Regions from separate parts of the Homo sapiens genome. Here region 2 is linked to region 1. The links come from fine-mapping of genetic effects on gene expression. A gene starts in region 1. The other region holds a variant in brackets. All regions are shown on one strand. Distances are from middle to middle.

The links. PIP is the estimated chance that this variant, and not a neighbour inherited with it, causes the effect. A credible set is the group of variants that fine-mapping cannot tell apart.
Region 2: its variant is the best candidate, but not a certain one, in a credible set for the expression of WDR5-DT in ileum (GTEx, PIP 0.68).

The regions. Positions count from the first base shown.
Region 1 is chr9:134,133,287-134,138,646 of GRCh38, reverse strand. WDR5-DT (WDR5 divergent transcript) reads left to right here and starts at 2,665. Exons shown (of 2, transcript NR_186420.1): 1 at 2,665-3,461. It overlaps WDR5 (WD repeat domain 5), which reads right to left and starts at 2,565. Exons shown (of 14, transcript NM_017588.3): 1 at 2,447-2,565. RefSeq lists enhancers at 1,584-2,508, 3,415-3,524 and silencers at 2,435-2,614, 3,055-3,224.
Region 2 is chr9:134,465,624-134,470,983 of GRCh38, reverse strand. The region is part of intron 1 of LOC105376311 (a long non-coding RNA gene); the gene reads right to left. Among named protein-coding and RNA genes, the nearest start is that of MIR4669, 89 kb to the right of the region's middle. The variant A/C (reference allele first, on the strand shown) is at 2,172.

The sequences.
Region 1 (5,360 bases):
AGCAAAGATTCCCTGCGCAAAGATGGATCACGCTGCATCTAGGGCCGAGTACAGTACAAGAGAGGGGGAGAGGAGGGGCAGGCCCTGTAGCGCTGCCCAGGGGACAAAGTGCCAGTACAAAACCGGTCCTCGGTAAATGCCAGCTACGTGGTACTTGTCATTAGTGCAACCTAGCCATGCCAATTTAACCCAACTGCTGCATTTTCCTTGGCAGGCTGGACAAATACAGGGAGAGAGAGGAACTAAGGAAATCCAAGCAAAAAGCTGCAAAGTCCACTATAACAGTCCTAGCGTTAGACAGCCAGGCCAGGGCCAGAGCTGAGTGAACTGTGCCCATGCCCTACCCAAGCGAAACACCAGAGGAACAGAAGGCGAAATAGGCAGCTCAGAAGGCCGAGCAGCTCCTGTCAGCATCAACTCACCTGGGTGAGTCTAGACGCCTGGAAACACCCTCAGAGGAGGAACAACAGATAGGCGGTCTTACAAAAAAGGTGTCCAGCCCCTCCCAGCTCAAGCCCAACCTGCCCCAACCTTTGGGCTCAAAAAACATGAACATGTAAAAGAAACAAACAAAACAACCTTAACTTGACTTTTAAGAATATGATGGCTGGGCACAGTGGCTGACGCCTGTAATCTCAGCACTTTGGGAGGCTGAGGTGGGCAGATCACGAGGTCAGGAAGTTCAAGACCAGCCTGACCAGCATGGAGAAACCCCCTCCCTACTAAAAATACAGAAATTAGCCGGGTGTGGTGGTCGGTCCCTGTAATCCCAGCTACTCGGGAGGCTGAGGCAGGAGAATCACTTGAAACCAGAAGGCAGAACCAAGATTGCGCCACTGCACTCCAGCCTGGGCCAAACAGTGAAACTCCGTCGGGGGGTGGCGGGGAATGCAATTTCTTGACCCAACACACCCACCAAGTTTCTACGTCGGTGGGGTCTAGGCTTGGCGTGTTTTTTTTTTGTTTTTGTTTTTTTTTTGAGACACAGTCCAAAGAGTCCAGGTGCACGATCTGGGCTCACTACAACCTCCACCTTCCGGGTTCAAGTAATTCTTGCGCCTCAGCCTCCAGTTTAGCCGGGATTACAGGCGCGTACCACTACGCCCGGCCAATCTTTTGTATTTTTAGTAGAGACGGAGTTTCGCCATGTTGCCCAGGCTAGTCTCGAACTCCTGACCTCAGGCAATCCGCCCGCCTCAGCCTCCCAAAGTGCTAGGATTACAGGCGTGAGCCACCGCGCCGGGCCAAGGCTTGGCATTTTCATGAACACTCAGGTGTCTCTGTGGAACAATCCTTTTGAGAGAACAGGAAGGTTGGAGACTTGATCTTGAGGAAAGCGGGGGCCAAGGTTACGGGAACGGTGATGAATTGGCGGCCCCTAGACCAGATGCTGCCTGGCTCCTCCTAGCAGCCACTGCTTTTCATCCAGGTAAGCCTGACCACCTGAAGCCGAGCAACCAAACCTCAGTGTGCCCTCCTGGACTGCATGCCACAGGCCGATTCCTGAGTCCCTCAGTCCCTGAGGTGGAGCCCAGGAATCTGCCTGTGACATGCAGTCAGAAAAGCATACTGTGTGCAAAGACAGGAATTAATCTGCATCTTAAACACCAGCCGGGTGGCCGGCCCAACAGAGGTGGGGACCTGGCTCTCCCTATCTGAGATCCTGGACAGGCTCCCCGCCTGGGTCCTTCGCTTTCCTGTCTTCCCCACCGGCTAGGACAGCACCTGCCCAGGTCACAGATTAAACTAGCATTTGAGGAGATGGGTAAACGGACCGGGGTGAGTGGAAACTTGCAAGCGAGACAGCAGGGAGTGTCGTTAGCGATGTAACAGGCCGACCTCTGTTTGGTCCGGGAACGTAACCGCTCAAAATGGCTCTCGCAGACCGGCCAGGACAGGTCTGCGGCCCCGCGCGAGGAGGCACGGTGGGCCTACCGTTCAGGACCGAGGACCCGCACCCCAGGACCCCACCTAGCGAGCTGCAGCCTGGCTGCCTCGGGTTGGGGTGAGCGGCGGGAGCGGGCTGGGGGCGTTTCTACGAGGAGGGGAAGCGCACCTCGTCCAGGGACTGAGTGGCTTGGTGGGTCTGGGGTCCTTCCCTGAAGGGGCAGTGGAGGGAGAGGGGCGATGTGAGGCCGGGCACGCTGCCTGCGGGAAAGAGGACCCAGTGCCGGCGCTCTGGCCTTGTCAGCGGTCCGCCGGGGAGGCGGAGGTGGGGGCGCGAGTGGGGGCGGACCGGGTGGAGGGAACTGCGCGCGCGGCCGTCCACCGAGGGGCCGGGGCGGGGGTCCCGGGCGGGGCCGCTGCAGCGGGAGCAGCGCCCGGGGCTGGGCCTGGCCCGAGGCCCGGCGGGGAACACGTGCGGCGGCCGGGTGCGGTTTGGAAGCTTCTGGCGCCGCCCCGCTGCCCGCCTTGTGTTCCCCGGGCCGGGCGGCTGCCCGCTTACCTGCCGGGCCGCGGCGGCGGGGCCGGGCGCTCGGGGCGTCGCGTCGGCCGCCGCCTGGGCGGGAGCGCGGACTCAGCTCGACAAGGCGGCAGCTCGGGCGGGCGCCAGGCGGCGGGGGCGCAGTGCGCGTGCGCGAGGGGAGGGGGCGGTGTCCGGGGGGCGGGGCGAGCTCACAAAGCCGGCCTCTCGGAGGAGCGCTACGGGCAGCGACAGCGGCCAGAATGCCTCGGGCCGGCCCAACGCTTTAAAGGGACAGCACGGGGCGCGCGCTTCCCGCTTAAAAGCTTTAATCCCCGAATTTGACTGGTGCAGGCCCTTCTAATGCACTTCCTAAAAACTGAAGTATAATAATACATACAGGAAAGTGCTAGTGTGCCCTCGCGTTTCCACAGACAGCACGCCCTGTACACAGACACCAGCGGCCCTCCGGGACCTGCGCAGGTGGCGTCGCCCGGCGTTGTCTCCGGAGTCGATTCGGGCCGGGGCACCTCCCCGGGCGACCAGGCCCCTTCTTGATCATCGCTGGTACGGATGAGAGCGGCAGTGGGCATTTGGAAAGCACCTGGGGCCGCGCCCGGGCGCAGTGCCCCCATGTGGCCTCCCACCCCGGGCGGGCAGGACGATTCCTGCCCATCTGGAAGACCAGGAACCTGCGCGTTCACAGGGTTCGGAAGCCCGGGCTGCGCCTTCCCGCGGGGCCGGCTGCCGGGCTGGGGGCTCTTCCCGCCTCTGCATGCACAGAGCCCGCGGTGCACGAACCTGCTCCCCGCCAGCCCCGCGGACTGGCAGGGCCGCTCTGGAGTCACCCGCGCCCGCTCCGCAGTGCGCAAACTCACTTCGCAGCGGGCTCTCCCGGGGCCAGCCCTTCCCTCCTGGGCGGGCATTTTCACCTCCAGGTACAAGGGGGTGGTCCCCAGAGGAGGACTCAGGGGCTTAAGGAGAAGCTGAGGCCCGGTCCTCTGGCCTCAACGACTGCACATTCTCGCCGCCTGCTTCACTTCTTAGAGCCTTGGAGGTAGGCATGGCCTCCCTATCCCCTCAGCTAGGCCTGTGGGTAGAATAACATACAGTCCCTTATTCTCCAATTAAAAATGGGAACACAGAATATGACACAGGAACCCATGCAAACAAAGGGATAGAGCATTTGAAATAAAAATGCCAAGGAGGGTGAGGTGAGCGGTTGTCAGAGAGGTGGAACCGGAAGACTGGCAGTTGGTCTGGAGTCCCCTTCCCAGGAAGGACACAGAGAAGGCAAGGTCCCTGTCTGGTCCTTCAGGGCTCCATATGGATTTGTGTGCCCAAGAGGCCGGATCCCTTGGGCCAGGTGCCCTGGAGCATGGAGTGGTGACAGTCACAGGTTAGCAAACCCAGTTCGGATGAAGAAGCGCATCTTTATCTCCGTCCACCTGGCCGCCTGGGCCGGAATCCCGAGCCCGTGACACGCTGCTCTCCTTCCACCCCACCTCAGCTCTCAGATCGTCCACTTCTCTCCCTCCCCACCCCAGCCCTACCTCCCACCTGGGTCTTTTCTAAACCTCCAAACAGAGAAACTCCTAAAAATCCAGCTCTGATCTGTCACTCCCCAGTTTAAAACTCAGAACCAGCTTCCCACTGCCCTCAATTCCCTAATTCCCACTGCTCAATTCGGCTAAAGTGCTTACCAGACCCCGCCTCCTCTTCCAACCTAGCACCGGCTCCCAAACTGCAGTCCTGGTTCCAGCCCCAAAACAAAAATATTTCCAGCCCTTCAGCCCTCCAGGCAAAGCAAGATAAGGGGCGAGACCCCAGAACCCTCAGAACTCAAACCAAGTTCCCAGCTTCCACTTCCAGGTGAATTGGTCTCACCACCTCACCCCACCCCCAGGAGATAGAACCTTCTAGTAAAAATGAGAAAATCCGGCCGGGCGCGGCGGCTCACGCCTGTAATCCCAGCACTTTGGGAGGCTGAGGCGAGTGGATCACCTGAGGTCGGGATCACCTGAGGCTGAGGCTGAGGCAAGGAGAATCGCTGGAACCCAGGAAAGAGGTTGCAGTGAGCCGAGATCGCACCATTGCACTCCAGCCTGGGCAACAAGAGCAAAACTCCGTCTCAAAAAAATAAAAAAGATGTTCAGAGAAACAGTTCCATTTACTAAGTCACTGCTGGTGGCCAAAGCCTAGTTAATGTTCTGAAAATCTCCATCGTGTTTGTTCCTCTTCTGTGATTCTTATTTTCTCTTCTATTTTCACCTGCCATATTTTTTCCTGAGGCTGACAACTGTTTGGTAGGATATAAGAGGATTTAAAACTTAGTAAAGCAAATTACTTGCCTTTGTTAAATTCTCTTCCTTGCTGGCGTTATATGGTTTCAGAATTTTAGCTATGACTGCAGGCAGGGGTGGATTGCAAAAATTGCTGAATGGGGTTAGAGGATTTTCTCTTTTTTTTTTTTTTTTTTTTTTTTGAGACGGAGTTTGCTCTTGTTGCCCAGGCTGGAGTGCAATGGGGTGATCACCACAACCTTGGCCTCCCGAGTTCAAGCAAGTCTCCTGCCTCAGCCTCCCGAGTAGCTGGGATTACAGGCATGCGCCACCACGCCCAGCTAATTTTGTATTTTCAGTAGAGATGGGGTTTCACCATGTTGGTCAGGCTGGTCTCAAACTCCTAACCTCAGGTGATCCACCCGCCTTGGCCTCCAAAGTGCTGGGATTACAGGCGTGAGCCATCACGCCCAGCCTTCTCTAAACAATTTTTATAAATACAACATTTTGGCCAGGCACAGTGGCTCACGCCTGTAATCCCAGCACTTTGAGAAGCCAAGGTGGGCAGATCACAAGAACAAGAGATCAAAACCATCCTGGTCAACATAGCGAAACCCCATCTCTACTGAAAATACCAATTAGCCAGGCATGGTGATGGGTGCCTGTAGTCCCAG
Region 2 (5,360 bases), 330 kb before region 1:
AGGACCCAGGCTCAGGAGGACTCTCACTTAGGAGGGTCCCAGGCTCAGGAGAACCCCAGGCTCAAGAGGACCCCAACTCAGGAGGACCCTGACTCAGGAGGACCCCAGGTTCAGGAGTTCCCAGGCTCAGGAGGTCCCAGGCTCAGGAGGACCCTGACTCAGGAGGGCCCAGGCTCAGGAGTTTCCAGGCTCTGGAGGACTCCAGTTCAGGAGGACCCTGACACAGAAGGACTGAGGCTCAGGAGGACCCTTACTCAGGAGGGTCCCAGGCTCAGGAGGACCTGGGCTCAGGAGGGACCCAGGCTCAGAAAGACCCCAACTCAGGAGGACCCTGATTCAGGAGGGCCCAGCTTCAGGAGGACCCAGGCTCAGGAGTTGCCAGGCTCAGGAGGACCCCAGTTCAGGAGGACCCTGACACAGAAGGACCCAGGCTCAGGAGGACTCTGACTTAGGAGGGTCCCAGGCTCAGGAGGACCCCAACTCAGGAGGACCCTGACTCAGGAGGACCCCAGGCTCAGGAGGACCCAGGCTCAGGAGGACCCCAGGCTCAGGAGGACTCAGGCTCAGGAGGACCCCAGGCTCAGGAGGGCCCCAGGCTCAGGAGGACACAGGCTCAGGAGGACCCCAGACTTAGGAGGACCCAGGATCAGAAGGACCCTGACTCAGGAAGACCCCAGGCTCAGAAGTTCCCAGGCTCAGGAGGACCCATGCTCAGGAGGACCCAGGCTCAGGAGGACCCCAGGCTCAGGAGGACTCAGGCTCAGGAGGACCCCAGGCTCAGGAGGGCCCCAGGCTCAGGAGGACCCAGGCTCAGGAGGACCCCAGACTTAGGAGGACCCAGGATCAGAAGGACCCTGACTCAGGAAGACCCGAGGCTCAGAAGTTCCCAGGCTCAGGAGGACCCATGCTCAGGAGGACCCAGGCTCAGGAGGACCCATGCTCAGGAGGACCCAGGCTCAGGAGGACCCCAGTTCAGGAGGACCCTGACATGGAAGGACCCAGGCTCAGGAGGAACCCAGGCTCAGGAGGATCCAGGCTCAGGAGGACCCTGACTTAGGAGGGCCCCAGGCTCAGGAGGACCCAGGCTCAGGAGGATCCCAGGCTTAGGAGGACCCAGGCTCAGGAGGACCCCGGCTCGTGAGAACCCAGGCTCAGGAGGGTCTTGTAGTTGGTTTAATGCTTTGTTGTTGCCCTCTTAAAATTCTTAGTTATTTCCATCTGGAATGTGGGACCTCTGTTTTCTCTTTGCAGAGGCTCTACACATTCTGTAGCCGATCCAGCTCCCAGCCCCCACGCTGGGTGGGTCAGAATCCTCATTTCCTACCCCAGCACTGTGGCTGCCCATCTGTGAAATGGGTTTAGTGCCCACTTCCTAGGGTGGCCTGGGGTGGCGAGAGAAACAGAGACAGAGTTTTGACTTCCTGGGGTGGGTGGTGAGGGGTGGGGGACAGGGAGAGAAGAGACAGGGAGGGCAGGCAGGGCAGGGACAGGCCCCTGCCTCAGTCTAAAGTCTCTCACTCTTTTTCCTGTGGCCGCCCTCTTCACTCCCTCCTGGCCAGTCCTCAACCCTCCCCAACAAGCCAGGAAGACTCGGCATGAATCCCGTGGAAAAGAAGTGGCTGCACATTTTCCGAGATGTTTTAAACATTGTTTTGGCAAGACGGCGGCTCCTCCACGGCCCAAGTCACCCTGACATAAAACAAGCCTGACCAAAGCCAGGGCCCCAGCCCGCCGGCCTCCTCCGGCCAGCCAAGGTCTGGCTGCCATGCACTCATCACCTTCCCAGCCCTGCCCCTCCCAGATGCCGGGCACACCGGGCGGGGGAGGCCGGCCTGCCTCTTCAAACGGCCTCTTTTTAAAGCCAAGGAATGCCTCTTGATGCGTTTGTTTCTGTGGTTGCTAACCAGCAGCATCGCATGGTCTGGGAGGCCAGCAGGACACCCGGGTGACTGGTTTCATGCTCTGCACAAACTGGGCCAAGAAGGGGCTCCAGTCAACTAGCGTAGCCCCCCGTGGTGCAGGGGGAGAAACTGAGGCCCAGAGACAGGGGAGGAGGTTGCCAGGGTCCCAGATCAAGTGGCCATACTATGGGTGCATTCTGGGTCTTGCCTCTGAGAGGCAGGTCCCCGTGCTAGCCTGGCAAGGCTGCACAGGCATCGGGTTCCTGAGGG[A/C]GCATGCGTGTTGGGGGGAACGCAGGCAGCCTGTCTCCCCCACCTTATTTCTTGCCCCGTTGCATCAACCCTGTGCAGCGAGGGATAACATTGCCTCTACTTTACAGACATAAAACCAAGGCTTGGAGAGGTGAGGTGACCTGCTCATCACAGGCTGCCCCAGGTGGAACTGGGATTCCATGGGGTTGGTGTCTGGAGCTGGATCAGGCCCAGCCTCGTGGGCAGTCCCGCCCTGCAAATGGACAGGCCTTTGAGGTGGGTGCAGAGGTCCCAGCCTCCGCCTGCAGGGCCCTAGGGTCCTGGGATGGATGTAGCAGCCTGGCCTCATATCCTGCTGGGGCACTCGGGGGAAGTCGCGCCATCCCTCTAAACCCTCAGCTCCCCCACCTGTGAAGGAGGGCACGGGGCCATAAACATTAAGGACCTCATTGCTCCTAAACTACCTGGCCCAGGACCTGATTTAGGAAGAGCAACAAAAGGCAGCAGCCCCTTCTGGAAAGGAGGTAATACCTGCAAAGGGCTCGGACGTGGGAATAGGAGTCGATCATGCTGGCCAGGCTGAGACAGGACCCAGGCTGCCTGATGTGCATGGAGACAGGTCAGCCCAGCCCCACCCTGACATAAGCAGACCTCCCTCCTCCCCGAGTCTCAGGTCCCCTCAAGGGGCCAGGGGCTCCAAGAGCAGTTCCCATGGAGTGAAAGAGCTCTGCCATCTCTGATGATGCCACTGTGTCCTGCAAATTAAACTGACAAGAGGCAGATTAGGAAGAGGAAAAAAATGTTTTCATGTAGAAATGTACATGGGAGACCACAGGAAAATGGGATTCAGAGGAGTGGTTAGAATCTGGGGCTTACATATCCTCTTAGAGGTACACAAAAATCAGGGGAGAAGGAGAAGGGCACACACAGGAAAACGAATGGCTTTTTGGAAAGGTAAATGGGCCCTGAGGTGGACAGATTTGGGGTAGCGTGGCTCTGGGACCACGCCCGTATCCGTGTGCTATGGAGGTTTCTCGTCACTGACTATGATAAGAGTCCATCTTCCCTGGCCACTCCAGGGAGGGATGTACAGCAGTTGAGTTATTTCTAGTTCTTTTGGGGGGCTCTGCTTTTATTCAGATAAGGGGTTTCTGAAACTCAAATGCCTCCTGCACAAAATAATTTTATGCCCCAGCGGCGTGTTCTGAAGTCCCTTCCCCTCCCCCAGACCTTCCATCTGGCAGGTAAGCATCTCTGCTTTGTACCTAAAGAAACAAGGGCTCAGAAAGATTCAGACCTGCTCAGAGTCCCTGAGGGGGCACCATCAGCCACCCAAAGCCACCTTGCCCTGAGGCTGCACGCCCCAGAGTTTGGGAGCACAGCTGCTTGGTGCTGATAGGACAGCGCCCCAGGGGCCTCCAGGATGGCAGAGCCGCCTGGGAGCTGCTCAGGGACAGGGTCGTCCTCTGCTGATGCACCCTGGAGCGTCTGGTTGTCCCAGTGTAACTCCAGGCTGCTGGTACCGGAGTCTTCTCACTTTCCTCCCTCCCTTCTCACGGGTCCCCTCTGGGCTCTCGGCTCATGTCCCTGCATGCAGGTGGGTGTAGCAGGGTGGAGGGGTCCCTGGAATGGGGCTGGGGGAAGTAGAAAATCAAAGGCCACCCCGGAGCTCTGCTTTGCTTCCCGCCTCCCCAAGCTGGACACTTCTGCAGGGCCCAGGTCATCGGCATACTTCAGGGGCCCAGCACCAGGTGACCCCATCTCCCAAGTGCAGACCTGGAGTGGACAAGGGATCCGAGGCCAGTAGGCCCATTGGAACTGAAGCAAGGGACATGGGCAGTGGCACATGTGGCACAGAGTGGGCACTAATGGAGGGGCGGCTGGGTGAGCGGGGCAGAGGCGCGTATGGTGCAGAGTGGGCACTAATGAGGGGGCGGCTGGGTGAGCGGGGCAGAGGCGCGTGTGGCGCAGAGTGGGCACTAATGAGGGGGCGGCTGGGTGAGCGGGGCAGAGGCGCGTGTGGCGCAGAGTGGGCACTAATGAGGGGGCGGCTGGCTGAGCGGGGCAGAGGCGCGTGTGGCGCAGAGTGGGCACTAATGAGGGGGCGGCTGGGTGAGCGGGGCAGAGGCGCGTGTGGCGCAGAGTGGGCACTAATGAGGGGGCGGCTGGGTGAGCGGGGCAGAGGCGCGTGTGGCGCAGAGTGGGCACTAATGAGGGGGCGGCTGGGTGAGCGGGGCAGAGGCGCGTGTGGCGCAGAGTGGGCACTAATGAGGGGGCGGCTGGGTGAGCGGGGCAGAGGCGCGTGTGGTGCAGAGTGGGCACTAATGAGGGGGCGGCTGGGTGAGCGGGGCAGAGGCGCGTGTGGCGCAGAGTGGGCACTAATGGGGGGGAGGCTGGGTGAGCGGGGCAGAGGCGCGTGTGGTGCAGAGTGGGCACTAATGGGGGGGAGGCTGGGTGAGCGGGGCAGAGGCGCGTGTGGTGCAGAGTGGGCACTAATGGGGGGGCGGCTGGGTGAGCCGGGCAGAGGCGCGTGTGGTGCAGAGTGGGCACTAATGGGGGGGAGGCTGGGTGAGCGGGGCAGAGGCGCGTGTGGTGCAGAGTGGGCACTAATGGGGGGGAGGCTGGGTGAGCCGGGCAGAGGCGCGTGTGGTGCAGAGTGGGCACTAATGGGGGGGCGGCTGGGTGAGCCGGGCAGAGGCGCGTGTGGTGCAGAGTGGGCACTAATGGGGGGGAGGCTGGGTGAGCGGGGCAGAGGCGCGTGTGGTGCAGAGTGGGCACTAATGGGGGGGAGGCTGGGTGAGCCGGGCAGAGGCGCGTGTGGCGCAGAGTGGGCACTAATGAGGGGGCGGCTGGGTGAGCGGGGCAGAGGCGCGTGTGGTGCAGAGTGGGCACTAATGAGGGGGCGGCTGGGTGAGCGGGGCAGAGGCGCGTGTGGCGCAGAGTGGGCACTAATGGGGGGGAGGCTGGGTGAGCCGGGCAGAGGCGCGTGTGGCGCAGAGTGGGCACTAATGAGGGGGCGGCTGGGTGAGCGGGGCAGAGGTGCGTGTGGTGCAGAGTGGGCACTAATGGGGGGGCGGCTGGGTGAGCCGGGCAGAGGCGCGTGTGGTGCAGAGTGGGCACTAATGGGGGGGAGGCTGGGTGAGCGGGGCAGAGGCGCGTGTGGTGCAGAGTGGGCACTAATGGGGGGGAGGCTGGGTGAGCGGGGCAGAG